2 separate regions of the Homo sapiens genome follow, and region 2 is linked to region 1. The links come from fine-mapping of genetic effects on gene expression. Tissue or cell type: blood mononuclear cells. Region 1 holds a variant in brackets; the other region holds the start of a gene. All regions are shown on one strand. Distances are from middle to middle.

Evidence for each region. PIP is the estimated chance that this variant, and not a neighbour inherited with it, causes the effect.
Region 2: BCL6 starts here. The variant in region 1 is fine-mapped to the expression of BCL6 in blood mononuclear cells (TOPMed, PIP above 0.99). The same link has a PIP of 0.9 or more in monocytes.

Annotation. Positions count from the first base shown.
Region 1 is chr3:188,413,049-188,421,155 of GRCh38, reverse strand. All of the region lies in intron 4 of LPP (LIM domain containing preferred translocation partner in lipoma), which reads right to left. Among named protein-coding and RNA genes, the nearest start is that of LPP-AS1, 150 kb to the left of the region's middle. The variant A/T (reference allele first, on the strand shown) is at 3,161.
Region 2 is chr3:187,741,600-187,749,706 of GRCh38, reverse strand. BCL6 (BCL6 transcription repressor) reads left to right here and starts at 4,239. Exons shown (of 10, transcript NM_001706.5): 1 at 4,239-4,297. BCL6-AS1 (BCL6 antisense RNA 1) reads right to left here and starts at 6,038. Exons shown (of 2, transcript NR_173091.1): 1 at 5,663-6,038; 2 at 3,681-4,463. RefSeq lists enhancers at 4,601-5,126, 7,517-8,016, 8,017-8,107.

The DNA.
Region 1 (8,107 bases):
AGTCTAAAGAACACAATTTGGTTCAAACAAGTTATGCCTGAATCTACTCTGGACTACTTTTTACCTGTATGGTCTGGGGCAAGCCACCTCACCACCAAGCTTCCCTCTCTTCAACAGTAAAATGGGGGGTGAGGGGGTACCATCTAATTCAGCAGAAAGAACCCATGCCCTATTCATTTCTATGCCCTGCCTTACACATGCACAGCTCAGGCAACATGTGCAAATATTTGTTGTGTGAATAAATTAAATATATACATATATAAAATGTGTTTAAAAACCATGTATCATGATATAATTGTGTACACGTTACACTTTCTACTGTAGTTACTACCACCACCACATACTCAGTTTTTGCTACAAACACAGCCTAGTAATGTTGGTAAGAGCAGAAATAAAAACCTGTTTTGTTTATTCAAGCAGCAACAATATAACTGGCTTGAGAGACTGGTGACCCCTAGACAGAGATGTTACTTTTCTTAATGGGTAAGTTAAGAATCTCTTCGAGGGTCTGATGGTGTTGTGAATGCTTTCCCTAAAAAAGACATACACGCAGACTAAGTTTAAATACAATTTCAGGAGACTGGCTTAATCCAAAATATGAATCTCAAAAACGAATGGAACCCAAAATAAAATCCCTAATTAAATTAATTTTTCTGAGATTGTGTAGTTAATAATCCCTAAAATCTCTCTGTAGCAACTGACATTTTGGAAAATTAATTTCTTTAATTAATAAAAATCAATAGTTTCTTTCTGAAATGTTCATTTACATTTTAACTGTACTTATAGTTCAATAGTAAAAACACTACTTTTCAAAGAGATAATATAAACATGAATCATTTTTTGCCACATTGACAAAGTTCAAGTAAAGTAATTCTACTTCTAACAAAGGTGTAATGCAAATTCAAAAAAGGAATCATAATTCTAGCAAGGACAAACATACACCAAGCCAATTCTAAAATCTCTATTAGCAAATACAAAAAGAAACAAGGATACAACTAAGATTATTTTTTAAATGGTCAGCATGAGCTATATGGGATTTTATAATTAAAATTTTATAATCAGAATTTTTTAAAAAAAACTATGGATAGAACCCTCAGAGCTAATGTTCATATTTTCATTTCAATAATAATAGCAAGAACAATGATTGCAGCTTCCACTGATTTTGTCATTATTTTGTCATGACTTAACTTTGAAAACAACTCTTTAAGATACAAATATCTCTATTTCATTTATTCATATATTTATTTATTATTTTTATTTATTCATTTATTTGAGATGGAGTCTTACTCTGACGCCTAGGCTGGAATGGAATGCAGTGGCTTACAGCAACCTCCACCTTCTGTGTTCAAGTGATTCGCCTGCCTCAGTCTCCCAAGTAGCTGGGATTACAGGTGTGTGCCACCACGCCCGGCTAATTTTTGTATTTTTAGTAAAGTCGGGGTTTTGCCATGTTGGCCAGACTGGTCTTGAACTCCTGATCTCAGGTGATCCACCCTTGGCCTCCCAAAGTGCTGGGATTACAGGCGTGAGCCACCACGCCTAGTGCATAACTATCTCTATTTTAAAACTGAAAGAACTTAGGTTGCCACTTATCCTGGTGAGTCCAAGTTTCCAGAGAATTAAGAGGTAAAATCAAAACTCGAAACCCAGATCTATCTGATGCCAGAGTCTACAAGCTTAACCACTGCCTCCCTGAGTCTTTCTTCTCTGTAACCTTCCAATACTACCTTGGCTCCAAGCAAACTCTTTCTTCTGATAGAGTTAGCCATGGAGTCACTTCACAAATAGAAGCTGTACAGTAAAGCTTTATATTGTTAGTTAACTGGGCATTTTCATATGTTGAATTTCTAATGAAAATATAAACTGTTTAAGGGCTAAGACGTGTTTTTACTTTTTCCTGTCCACTACAGAGCCTGGTTAAGTAACAATGGCACAAGATGGAAGTGAATAGGACCCAGTAAAAGAACGGAATTTAATGCAGATGTCAAGATATAAAACAGTGAAATCTTATCTACCAGGAATCACATTGGGTGGCATTCATGACACTTTACTCTCACCTCAAGTGGTGATATTTCTGGGAGACCTCATAGAACTTGGAGATTTCTTTCCCAGGAGGTAATTTTTACAGAGGATGCCCTTACTAAAACCCAAGTCATTACAACATTAACAGATCAATAATAAAAATAATGACGAATTAAAATGCCATTTCTATAGAACGGTAAAAAATAAAATAAAATGTCATTTTAATTCCATTGTAATGTCAATAAAACTACCCCTGATATCTGAAAAGTTTAAGCAAGATGACACAATTCAACTGAACTAAGGAAAATTCCAAATGGTTATTCCAAAGGTCTTGTCAAATAATGTCGCCTTGAGACACTATTTGAGAAACTTGGTAATAACTTCTTGAGACTACTTTGGCTGTTTTATATTTGTATACATCATAGACATCCATGCACAGGAGATTGATTTTAAGCAATTTTCACACATTATTTGGATGACCTTAACCTTCAAATCGCTCTGGATAGTAATAATTCGGGAAAATAATGATGGAAAAATTATTTCATTTAATACAAGTAATAATGGCATTAACATGAGATACAGTGTACTGCTGAGGAACAGCTACAGACTTGGATTTAGGAGACAAGGGTTCAATTCCCAGCTTTGCAATATGCTAGTTATTTCACTTTACATACATTATACTTGGCAGATTGAGGGTGATAATAACTTTTTTACAGAGTAGCTAGAAAGATAAAGTAAGCAGTAAAGCAAAGTGGACTTCAGATGAAATGGAAGCTAATAAATCCACTACAATATTTTTCAAATAGTTAAGATACTGTTCTGCCAGATAAGTTGTTTTAGTAATTGTAATAATTCATTATTACCAAATAGTGTTTATCGTACATTACCAATACTTAAGGGAAGATACTAAAATTTGGTCAAATGTGACTTCTACATTTATTAGCCTAACCTTGGGTCTCTGAATCACAGATTTTTCATTTGTCTTTAGGAACCATAATAATGTAGGAACTATAATAACGTTGCAGGATATTCTGGTGATTAAACTAGATATTATGTGAGAAAGTGCTCTAAAATTTATTCACATTTGTGCACACTCATACAAACACATTTTAAAATTACAAGTTGTAATGAACATTTC[A/T]CAATAAAATCCTTCTTTCATTGCTTCCTGTTTTCTCAGGATTACCCCAACGTGTGAACAAGTAAGAGAGCAAAACAAAACAAAAAATGATTAAGTTAGCTTACAACTCCATTCTTAAGCGTGTGTGTTTGACTAGGTAAAAAAAGCTGCCTGAAATTATTTCAGGAGATTTAAAGAGAATTGCCTTTTGCTTTTTCTTTCTTGCCTTAGCATTTGTATGCACAGGCACATTTCATTCTAAAATATAACAGACAAGTGCAGAGAGATAGCAATAGTACTTCTGGCCAGTACCTCCAGGAAAGTACTTCTTGCCTGTGGTATAAGATCATATTTCTTGGTCCTTCCTCTCTGAAGCTACCTAACTTCCTGGAGCTATTTCTAGAGGTAAGTTTCAGAGCACGCTAGAACATTTAGGTCTACCCATAGTGAAGTCACTCTGTTCACATTGCAAAGCTATTCCCAGGAGCCCAGATGCATTGCCTGAGGACATCAGCAAAGAGCTGCCAAAATTACAAGGGTCAGGATGGGGGCCATTCTCTGCTTTTGCACATGCTGTTCCCTTTACTTGGCATGCCATGCTGTCCACCACCCTTTTCTGCTTGGTAAACAACTAACTCATTCTCCAACACTCAGATCAGATGTGTCCTCGTCTGTGATGCTTTCCCCAGTTCCTCCTAGAGGACATCCTTCATATTATATTACGGCACTAAATTTACATAATGCAATTTTTATGCACATGTGGTGCCTGTTATATGTCTATCTTGACTAGTAGACTTATCTATTCTGTTTGAAGACAGCGACATACAGAACAATGTAAAGAACATATAATAAGGGAGAGTGCTGGAAGAGCAAACTGCTAGAAGACTCAGGATGCCACATCCCAATGACCTATACTCCTCTGCCCCAGGTGCTGTCCTCAGCCATCAGGTCTCTCTGAATGCAGTAATTTTAAGAAAGGATGATAAAAATATCATACTGATTTTTTTTAAGTTCTTTAGGTTAATCGTTATTCTAGGGTATGATTTCTTTATATGGTATATTTGCCCAAAGGCTCAGGTGTCAGATTTATTTTTATAATGTCCATAATGAATCCATTTTTAGATAATTTACATAGGCCTACTGTGACCCAAAATTGGCTGAGATTTCAGGCATTGCTACCCAAAGCAACACAATAGCAAGAGCTCTGTAATGCAGAAGCTTGTCCATGGCTAGGGCATTCTCGAAGAATCCATTTTTTTGTTGTTGTTTGAAATTTTCTGGTTTTGGATCCCAAATAAAATGACCCAGGACAACATATGCAAACGATTGGTGTCTATAATGAAAGCACTGAGGGAAAAGAATAGCAACATGAAAGATGCTCTAGGTCTCTGAATCTGTACAATGTTCACAAGATAAAGACTCTCAAGACTTCAAAAGCTACCATCATTAACTACGGGAGGAAGAGTACACTCTCAGGACTTGGAGAAGGTTCAAAGGAGATTAAGGCACTGGTCCCTGAAGTTAATGAAATAAATGAGTGGTTCCCAAACGTTGGTTGAGCATCAATCACAATTCCCGGGAAGTTCTGTTTTATTTTTTATTTTGCTTTGTTTTAATGCAGATTCCTGGGCCCCATGGCCAGATATTTTGATTCTGTAAAATTGTGATGGGACCTAGGACTTGCTTTAATTTTTTTCTTTTGAAAAATGTTCTCCAAGTCTTTCTGATGACTGGCCAGCTTTGAAAACCACAGGTTTAAGCCATACATTTTGGCAGGGATACATATAGCAGTGATCTTTCAAAGTATCATGCAAGCAATTCAGATGGCATGTAAGATAGCACTTTGAGTAAGAGAAGAATACATTAAGATATCTATATGCATTCCTTTATTTTACTATTATTAATTTTTTTTTAAATATGGACTCATAGAAAGTTGCAAAAATAGTACAGAGTTTCCATGTACATTTTACCCAGGTTCCCTAAATGGTAATGCTCATAAAGCTGTAATACATTCGAAAACCCAGCAAACTGACATTGTTACCTTATTGTTAACTAGGAGTTACTCAGTTTTTACCATTTTATAACCTGCATTGATTTGTGTGTGCATACAGTTCTATGTAACTTTATCCCATGTATAGATTCATGTAATCATCACTCCAATTGAGGTACAGATCTGTTCCACCCATACAAAGACTCTTGCTGCGTCCTCTTTGTAGGAATGACCAGTACTTGCCCCCCCCCGACCCACCCATTTCTGTCCCCTAGCAATCATGAATATGTCCTTTATCTCTAGAGCTTTGTCTTAAAATGAAATCATATAATACATGTAACCTTTCGAGACAGTTTTTTCATTAAGCATGTCCAGGTTATTGCATATACCAACAATACTTCATTCTTTTTTACTGCTGAATGGTATTATTCCATTGTATGGCTGTACCAGACTTCACTGAAACATCTGCCCATCAAAGGATATTTGGGTTGTTTCCAGTGTTTTGTCATTATGATAAAAAAAAAAAAGTTGCTATGAACATCCATGTACAGGTTTTTTCGTGAACATAACATTTTGATTCTCTGGATTAAATGCCAAAGGGTATATTTGCTGAGTCATATGGTTAGTACATGTTTACTTTTGTAAAATACCGCCAAAGAGTTTTCCATCGTGGCTACAAAATTTTGCACATGCCTACCAGCATTGTGAGAGATCATTTCTCCACATCCTTAGCAGCATCTGGTACAAATTTTTATTTTAGCTTTTCTAATACATGTGTGGTGATATCTCTTTGTGGCTCTCTGTTTATTTTTATTATCAAAAAAGCAATTAAATTCTCTTCAGATGTAAAATACGGAGGGACAATAGTATTGTATATTTGTATAATTCAAAAATAAAGATGATTAATATGTATCTCACCACACAAATCAGCATTAATTATTGTTTTTGAACCATACAAGAATTAGGAGGCACCCATCACCTTATTAAGGAACTCATTTCAGTAGTTAATTAAGCTGACAAGTTACAAAATAAAAGAGATTTCTGTCAACAATACAGGGACTTCTCCTTGTTCTAAAACATCCAATCCACTTTGTTCGGGTATATTAGTTCAATCACTGTAACTTCTAAACAAGTCCCCCAAAACGTGTCTATGGCAACCAGAGAAGGAATCCCCAGGATCATGGCTTGGCTTCCCCACTTACTAATCTGCAATACTGAACAAGCCACCTGCCTCTCTGAGTCTCTGAAATGAAGATTAAATTGTTGCCTGCATTCAAGAATTTTCATTGGTTATTTACAGCACTCCTGGGCAAAGAACCTGTACTTCGCTGAAATGTATTAGTGAATACATTCTCAACTATTCTCATCTAGGAAAGAAAGGGGTTGTATTAGATAACTTTTAAGATTCACCCTGGTTCTAGAATTTTACAGTTTATATAGTGTTGAGGCATTGTGATCTCTATCACTGTTGTTAGAAGCTAATGACATGAGTACTTATGGATAACATGCTAAATTATTATTATACTTATATTATCACATATTCATTACTACAGACTAAGTATCGCATATACAAAACATCTGGGACATGAAGTGTTTCAAATTTCAGATTTTTTGGATTTTTGGAATATTTACACATACCAGCTAAGCAACCCTAATCCACAATACTGAAATCCAAAATGTTCCTGTGAGCATTTCCTTTGAGCATTGTGTTAGCACTCAGAAAGTTTCAGATTTTTTCACATTTAAGATTTCAGATTTTTGGATTAGAGTTACTTAACCTATATTAAAGTATTTTTTATAATTTTGAATAGTTATTGGTAATTATATGTAAAGTTATAAAATGCATTTATTAAATAAATTTTATTTCACAAATGTTATCACTATTATTATTAATAATGTTATTTTTATTATAGCAAGAAAATACATCCCAAGAGGGCAGGAACTAGTCTCTGTTTCACTCAGTGCCATTACTTCAGCCCCTAGAAGAGTATCTGGCACAAAATCTGTTTTAAGTAAATGACTGCTGAATAAGTATATAATAGTAACTCCTTAGAGTTATAAGGTATTTTATGGTTTAAAAACATTTTCACATTTATCATCATATTTGGCTTTCAAAACAATCTTGTGAGGCAGTTGGTATTACCAGCTAATATTTTATGAATTAAAGAGGATATGGATTAGAAAAGCATCATGCCCAAGGCCAAGTGATGAAACTGAAGCTTGAATGTAACTGCACTGACCATCAAGCCAGGGCTGCATCTTGGCACTTTTGAGCATCAATAAGGCCTAAGAATATTTGGTAAGATCTGATGTCACTCCAAGAATTACAAGTTAATTTCTCTGCTGAAAGATGCAGTGTAAAGATCAAATTAATACAATTAATATTTGATCCTTTAATGAATACACAGCTTGTTCTTTTGTCCCCCTGAGGACCTGAAAATTAAAACTCATGCACTGCACTGTGCAGTGATGGATGAGGCTCGAGATGCTTACGCTCATCCAGAAAAGGGGCATGACAGGCAAACCCGAGCTTCATTACAGTTCCTGATGTTTCCGTGAATTTGTGGCTATCCTCATGGCATAACACGCATACTTATACCAAACGTCCAAGATGTTACAACTGCAGTCTCTAATTGCAATTAACAGGACTGTCAGGATTACAAAAAGATGTTTCCCATTTGTAACCTCCAAAAAAGATGTTTCCCATTTGTATCTCCAAAGTCAGAGCAAGATTCTCTTTGCATGGGGAAAAGGACAATAAGACTCCAGAGACAGAAAAGCACACCATGAGGACCATACGTTCGCAGCAAAAATAATGGGGAAAATCCAGTCTAAATTATTCCTTTAAATATAATGCCATAAGTGGACATCCATTTCCCTCACATGTTAGTTATCTGCTAAGAAAACAAATGTGTCCTGCCTACCCAGGATACATGGCTTCACATCACTAATGGCTAATTCTCCACCAAGCATCAATA
Region 2 (8,107 bases), 670 kb after region 1:
TCTTTCTCCAAGGATACTACAAAAAGCTTGTTTACAACAGTTCTAAATGAAGGATTTGAAATAAAACGAACAGGTAAAATTTAACAAGTCTGATAGATAGTGTCTCCCAAATCTATCAAAAGCAGTGCCAAGTACTTCAATGTAGCTGAGAGGCATAAATAAACCCAAATGACCATCAAAACTCATCATGACTTGGAGTTCGCTCTGAGTTTTGCAGTTTACAAAGAGACCATGGCAGCCTTGCTTCCCTCAGTTCTACAAGGACACAAGATATACACCTACAGACTCAAGTTGTCAGATTACACTGATCCTCTAAAATGACAGAGGGCCAGCAAATCATGCAGACCCATTTTCAGTTGTGTTCCTGGGGTCACACATGCTCCTAGTGAAGACCCAGCCTATAATCCTGAAAGAAGAAAGCCTAGAGAAGGTGATTGATTTGAAAAAGTCTTCCCAGTTTTAAAATCTTTAGTCCTATGATGTGGTATCTTAAAGACCTACCAAGGTGCCAGAGGTTCCTGACAGGTGAAACCAACTTCCTCTTGTGAGCCCCCTTAGAAAGAGGACAGAACCGTGTTTATTCCAAGGATAGGTTCTTTTTCAGCTATGACTGAATTGTGGGGAAGGTTTTGCAAGGGGGAATTGGATGTGAAGTCTGTTCTTTTCCTCAAATAGATGTAATATTAGGACCAGGCTATTTTATTTTGTAATAAAGCTTATATTTACCCAGCAGCAATGATCAGGGACCTATTCTTATGCCCAGTCCATGAGGCAAAGAGGTTGGCCTGGTCCTCTACTGAGTATTAGCAGCCAGTAACCATTAAATCATGGGACTAGTTGAAATGTAGTGCCCCGAAGTCTGCAGGAATTATTCATACGACCCCAGACATGGAATCACTCTTTAGAGCTTCTTAAGGATGATTTAAAAGAATCAGAATACGTTCAAGTCAGCCCTTTCTTTAATCCTGTAACACGGCACTGCGGGAGTGAGGGAGGCCCACATAGTGATGCCAACTGGATACTGAGGAGAGGTCAAGAATGAAAGAAGAAATGACATTCTGGAAGAAATTCAACTGGTATAATATTTGACAAAGTTACTTTCCTAGGAATTGAAAAGAGATTGAGAGGCGGGTGCACAATTTTCCTCACCATTCATTCAGTTCAAAGTAAAAGAGACTCACCGAAAAGTAAGTGCCTATCTTTAGAAAATTTTCAATAATGATTTTCTCTTTCTTTCTAACTGGTCTTCTGTTCTGGTCAATTTCTTTCAGTGTAAACACATTGATTTGGCAAAAAGCAGTAGGAAAATGTGGCACTCTGGCACTTGGTCCCAGAAATAATATGCTGGGAAGATTTGAGGTCCCTGGTGATGAGGTTAATTATATATGAACCAGCCCTGGTGGGTTCTCCCTCTAGGGGCTCACTGCAGAGAATTAAAGAGGGCTGAGGTATGAGAAGGGTGAATTCCTTCCCAGCCCCCACTCTGGCTGGTTCTACTACTGCCTTAGAGAGCAGATTTCCCTTTGCTCTGCAGCGCCCCCATGGGGCTAAGAGTGGAGTGGCAAAGGGAACACAGGAGGGACAAGCTGTGTTTCAGGTTGAGGGGGGCGGTGGATGAGGCTGAATGGCAGTTTTGACAAAGAAAAAAGTGACCAAAAATCATAAAAATAATCTTTTGAGGGCCCAATAGTAAGGCAGAGCCATACAATTCACATTCCAAACCATATAGATACGTCTGAGAAATCCTAAAGTGCTAATTGCTCATAAAAGAAAAAATTACACATATAAACACACAAAGAAAATCCCTTCCACAAAATCGGGGTGTCATTTTGCATCCAGCGGGATTCATTTTAATTTCTTTGAAAATGAGAAGGAAGGGGACTCAAATGAAAAAGCAGATAGTCTGCCTTCTGGCAGAATAAATCTGAACTTGACAATATCATGTGTCTTTGGGGGTAAAACGTACATTTCAACAACAGTGACAGGATTAGGCCTATGTATATTTTTCAAAAACCGTTCACAAGACAGGCTTTTCTGCAGAGGCTGCAGTAATCCATCTGTCAATAAGTATTAAAATATTCAGATTTCACAGGGACAGACACTTTAACGCATATTTCCTAAGCTCCAGCCCTTGTGGAAAATAATCAACCTCTTTGCACCTTTCTGGGTTTTAAAACCTAAAATACAGCCTTTAAAAATGTGTGTGTGTTGTGGGGTAGGGGGGTGCATTGCCAACAACATTTTCGGTGATAGATGGAACTTCTTACGGGACTGTCAATGAAAGAGATTTTCCAAATATCCCAGCAAACAGCAATCTTTCACAGCTCTGATCACTCCTCCATTATAAACCCAAATTTTGGGTTGAGATAGGTAGATTATTTTAGACATATCTTTATTAGAAATTAACAAGTGACGAGATTTTGTGGAAGCTTTAAGAATTCATCTGTAATTTAATAAGTCGCTTGAAGGACTCTCATAGCCAAGGCTCAGAACAGCCTGACCTTTGAAAGCTGCTTCTGGTCCAAACATTTTGGGCTAATTCTTGAGGAATCTGAAATATTATTTTCCCCTCACACCCTTCTTTTAAGAGAGAGACATAAAAGAAACAAGAGTCTCCCTTATTCAGGGATGAGTAGGAGGGGAAAAAACCCGAACCAACATTTAAATAAGGAAACTAGCAGCTCTGAACAAACAAACTAGGACCCACAATGAAATGATTCTGCACTGCAATTGCCTTTAAAAAGAAAGTAATAGAGAAAAAGAGAAGGAAAGAATTTCTCCTTCTTCTCTACCCCCCCCCCACCCCACCCCCCAACTCAGCTTCAAAGCTAAGAAGACTGTGCTGCGTGTAGTGCATTGTAGTTGTGGCAGTCTGTTCTAAATACAGGCAGTATCTGTGATACTGGCACGGCAGGCCTTTAGAATTCCCTCCGGCTGATCTCTTAAACACAGACTGAAGAGATTTTTTTACAACGACCTTGAAACGAGCCTCGAAAACAAAAATCTCAAGACCTTAAGAGAAAACAAAACACAAACAGGTATTTGGCTCACAGAATTTTGTAGAAAACACACACATACCACCCCGCCACCCCCACCCTCCCCCCCACACACACGTTTCTTGCAACAAGAAATTTCCCAAGAGTCAACAATAACAGATTAAACCCACCACTTGCTGTCCTGGAAAGAAACAAACCAAACCAAAACAAATCCTTTGAACATTTCTCTGAAGTGCAGGAGAGACACACTTCAGCAAAAGTCCAAGGGGGAAAAAGAAAATTGCACCAAAGGAAAAAAAAAAAAAAAAAGTGGGGGCTGGGATTGTTACATATGGCCAAAAATTTAAGCTTCTTTCAATAGTATTAGTATTGAAATAATACATCTTTAAAACGCTTGAGGGATTAGATAGGGAAAGAAAAGGCACGTACAAAAAAATCCAACCGATGCCGATCCTGTGATTTACGTAACACCACAAACTTGCAAAAGGCAAAAAATCAGAAGCAAAAATCCATAAACCATCAAAATACAGAAACCAAAAATCCCAAGCCACCACACCAGAAAGAAAAAAACCCAGAACAACAGCAAAAACCCCTGTCCTAAATAAAAATAAAGCAAATGAACCCACCGAAAACTGCTTGGCAAATATTTTTCTCGTGGTGCCTAATATTCTAGTTGGAAAGAGCTGTGATGTTTATTTTATTTTATTTTTCTCTTACTCGCCTCTCTAACCCTACTATATATATAACATACTTTTCCCAGTGGTTCAAACCTCTCGCTCCCTTTTGTGCATTTAGCTCGATCTGCTGAGTTTATGGGTAAGAAAGAAGGAATTAGCCCCAGACCCCGGGAAAGCAAAGCGCACTCCCCCTCTTATGTCACCGAATAGCAAATTAGTTCTCAGAATTCCAGAGGCCGAGCTTTGCTACAGCGAAGGCGCCGACGTCACAGAGGAGGAGCCCACGTGATGGTGGCGGAGCAGGCCATACCATCGTCTTGGGCCCGGGGAGGGAGAGCCACCTTCAGGCCCCTCGAGCCTCGAACCGGAACCTCCAAATCCGAGACGCTCTGCTTATGAGGACCTCGAAATATGCCGGCCAGTGAAAAAATCTTGTGGCTTTGAGGGCTTTTGGTTGGCCAGGGGCAGTAAAAATCTCGGAGAGCTGACACCAAGTCCTCCCCTGCCACGTAGCAGTGGTAAAGTCCGAAGCTCAAATTCCGAGAATTGAGCTCTGTTGATTCTTAGAACTGGGGTTCTTAGAAGTGGTGATGCAAGAAGTTTCTAGGAAAGGCCGGACACCAGGTGATTATTGCTGTTGCTGCCGCCGCTGCTGCTGCTACTGCCGCCGCCGCCGCTGTTGCCGCTGGTGCCGCTGCCGCCGCCGCTGCTCATGATCATTATTTTACCTTTTAATTCTTTTTTTTTCCGCTCTTGCCAAATGCTTTGGCTCCAAGTTTTCTATGTGTATCTATTGATATAAATGTATATATTTATTTATTCTAGCTGTCAGGTGTTAAAATAAATGCCGAAGATTAGTCCCACGTCTCTCCCACCATAGGATATAGATTGTTATGTATTTATTATTATTATTGTTGTCTTTGAGTGAATCGGCCGGTTTGGGGAGGCTTTTGCCACCCTCCCTTGTGTTGTTTTGGTTTTTGGAAAGGAGGTGGAGGAGAGGAAGGAGGGGAATTAGGGGGCGGCCGGAGCAGAGAGGACGAGACAGTGCTTGGGGGGTGATTCGGGCTAGTCTGGGGGCTGTCTGGCCCCAGACCGCGGAGAGGACGCGCGCTCGCGCTCTCGCTCTTTCTGCTGCTGCTTGCGTACGGCTTGTGATCTCTCTGGATTCGTGCGGCTGTGTTTTTTCCCTCTTTTCTCGCTTGCAAACTGCTTTCCTTGCTCCGTCGCTCCTGGCCTCCGCTTCCCTCCCTCCTCTTTTTCCTCGCCTCTTCTTCCTTCCCTTCCCCTGTCCTTCTGGGTAACTCCGGGAGGCAAAAAGGGAGGCTGCCCGCTCGCTCGCCCCGCTGGCTCTCTTCCATCGGCCTCGGTCTTTTAGATTCCCTGCCTTCGAGCCGAACCGAGATTTGGAAGGAAAAAATGCAAGCGAACTCTTTGGGTTTTTGTTTTTGTTTTTTTGGTCATAAATCCAGATGAGATGAAGTATCGTGTCTACTATTTCCTTTCAGAGCCGTGATCTTCCTAATGAGAGCCGAGTGTTTTGGTGTTCCCTGCCCCTGTGTTTTGGGGAGCTTGGGGGCGGGGATGTTGAACACTTTGAAAATTATTCTTTCTTGGTTGTAGTCGAGGGAGTCGGGAACCTCCGCGCGCTCTCCCTGCTCATCCCGAGGAGAGAGACTGATGGCGGGACAGGGCTTCTTGGGGTGGGTGGGAAAGGGGTGCGCACTGCACCTGCGATGCCTTTCAGTGTGCGGGGGGACTCAGGGAACCTCGACAGGACAGCCTGGGAGAACGAGAAAGGTGGCGGGATTTCTGGCCGCTGCGGTGTTTGTATTTTGGGCGCTGCGTGACTCTGTGTTGGCTCCCAATGGCTGTTGCCTCCCTTTCCTAAATTTTATTTTATTTTTTCCCATGGTGCAAGCTCTGTAAAAAGGGAACTGCGGGCCTGAGCGTAGTGGACGCCAGGCTTCAGATTCCCGAGGTCCTTACCTTGGGCGAGGAGAAAGACGAACAGAGCCCCAGCCCGCGTTCCTTATGTGCAAGACTCAGGAGGAGAGAAGGGCACTTTGTGGCCGTGGCTGAGGGGACCCGGCGCGGGAGGAGCGGGCGCGGGCGCGAAAGGGAGATCTTTGTGAGTGATTTTGCAAAAATAGATTGCGAGGTTGGTTGGATTTGCAACCTGTGGCTCTCCTCGAGGGAGTAAGAATGGGGGAAGGCGCGGCGGCGGCGGCCCGGGGAGGGAGTGGGTAGAGTTGGAGCCTCAGAAATCGGCTGAGCTCCGGGGGCGGGCGGGGAGAAAGGGCGGGGGGGCAGCAGGAGCTAGGGGCCACCCCGCTGCCGGATGTAGTGACCGTGGTAAATGTCTTGAGAACTGTGGGTTGCGTTGCCTTTATGATGCCGTGTTATTGGAACCCTGGCGAAAAATGGAACTAGTGTTGCAATAATGAGTTTTAAAGCTCCCCCATGGAAAACAAAAACACAACCAAACCGATTTTTTAAAAAAATGAAAAAAGACCCTCTGTGTTGTGTTCCCTTCTACGATGGTTGTGTTGGTGGCTGGGGTTTGGGGGTGGGGGGTCCTGACAGTTGAGCAGATAAATGACCCCAAACCAGGTGCTGAAAGTCCCAAGCTGTCACAGGGCCCCTGACCACCTCAGAGAGCCAATCTCCACTCCGCGCCCCCTCCCCGCCGGCCCCCGCCACCCCACAACCCGCCAGGATTTAATCTTTTATGGATTTTTTTTTCAGTTTATAGTTTCCAGGAGGAAAGTCTTGTAACGCTTTACTTTTTCTCTTCTTTTTTTAAAGTAAAGTGAGTGTCAGTAGATGTGTTTTTTACAGTCTGGATTTTAAAAAAAGTGGGGCAGGAGAGAGGGAACCAGGGAAAGGGCTGTTTAGAAATACAGTTTGTGGCTCTGAGCGATGCCACCGGCTTCCTCTACAGAGACTGCCAGTTTCCCTTTTTCTTTGCAAGGTGTGTGTGGTTTTAATAAATAACTTAAAAAAAAAAAGAGGGGGCGGCAAGATCCATCAGGAGACAGGTATCTATTTTGCTCACTATTTACTACCAAGAGCCTTTGGCACTAGAACAGAACCTCGTAAATCTGCAGCCCAAGTTGAAGTTCATCTGGCCCTAGTCCACACGCTATTCCTGGAGGTAGCAAACATGAGCTCAAAGAAGAGAGATGAAATCACATTCTTGCTTTAAAATATATACTTTTTTAAAAAAGACGAAAAGATATTTGTCTCTGGGGGAGGAGGAAATGGCGAACAAGTACCAGGAGATGGGCATTCCCTTACTCTAATGACTGCAGTTGAGTCTTCAGGCCAAAATAGAAACCTGTAGATGGCAACTCTCTCTCCACCTCCCCGCCCCGCCCGCCACCCCAAGCTTATAAATAGAAGTTTCCAGTATCCTATTTGGAAGACTTTCCAATACTAGAGGCCGAAGCATTGGCTAGTTTTAAGGGTTGTTGATAGTGACAGTAAGGCTAGATGCTGTTCATAAAAACTGGGCGACTTGAAGGAGACAGCCAGAAAAAGTGGGAATTCTCCAATTGCCCCTTTCTTCTTTTCAGTTTTGAAGGGTTTTATACCAATGCTTTCTTGAAAAGACTAACTTATTCTGGGTTTGGTGGATAGGGATGGGACTCTAAATGCTTAAGTTGTCGTTTGCTGAGCCCTTGAAGAGTTCCAGTTATTGGTTGAGTAAATGGTAGCCACGGCTAGATGTCAAAACCCTTCCTTCCCTCTATCCCCTACAGGGTAATGACACTCACAACCCACTTTGTTGTGAAAAACTTAAGAGATATAGAGGAGGCGGTGCAGCAGCGCCACCCCTCGGTGGGTGAAACTATTGGCAAAAGTCAATTTTTGAAAAATATTGGGAAGTGAACTTATGAAACATTTTTCCCCCAGAGATTTAAAAAAAATAGGGGAGATAAAACTAACGGATAAAAAGGACTTTGAAGTTTATCAAGTAGGGAAGAAAAATGTTGCTTTCCAACTAGGATGGTGTTATAATAGGCAACGTGGTTCTAAGGTTTTTTTTTTTGGTGGGGGGAGGGTGCCTGGTTGATTTTAAGTAGAAGAGTTCTCCAGGCGGAGGTAGCCCGGCCTTCCCCTTGGATTGACTTCTCAGGGCATCTTAATTCTGCTGCCTGTCTGATACCGAGATAGTGAGGGATGTTTTGGTGTAAAACACCATAGTGGCTGGAAATGCTGTAGTTTTGCCGGCGGTGGCAGGACGTATGTGTAGGGGGTGTGTTGAGGAGGTTTGTGGATGGCGTGGAGCAATGGTAGGCTGGTCTGTAGCCCTCTGTGAATCAACATCGAATGGCGCGTGCCGGTTTCCAGCACTGCGCAACAAGTGGGACCGCCGCTGCCGCCGCGAGCACAGCGAGGGTGCAGCGTGGTGGCAGAACTGGCTGGTTT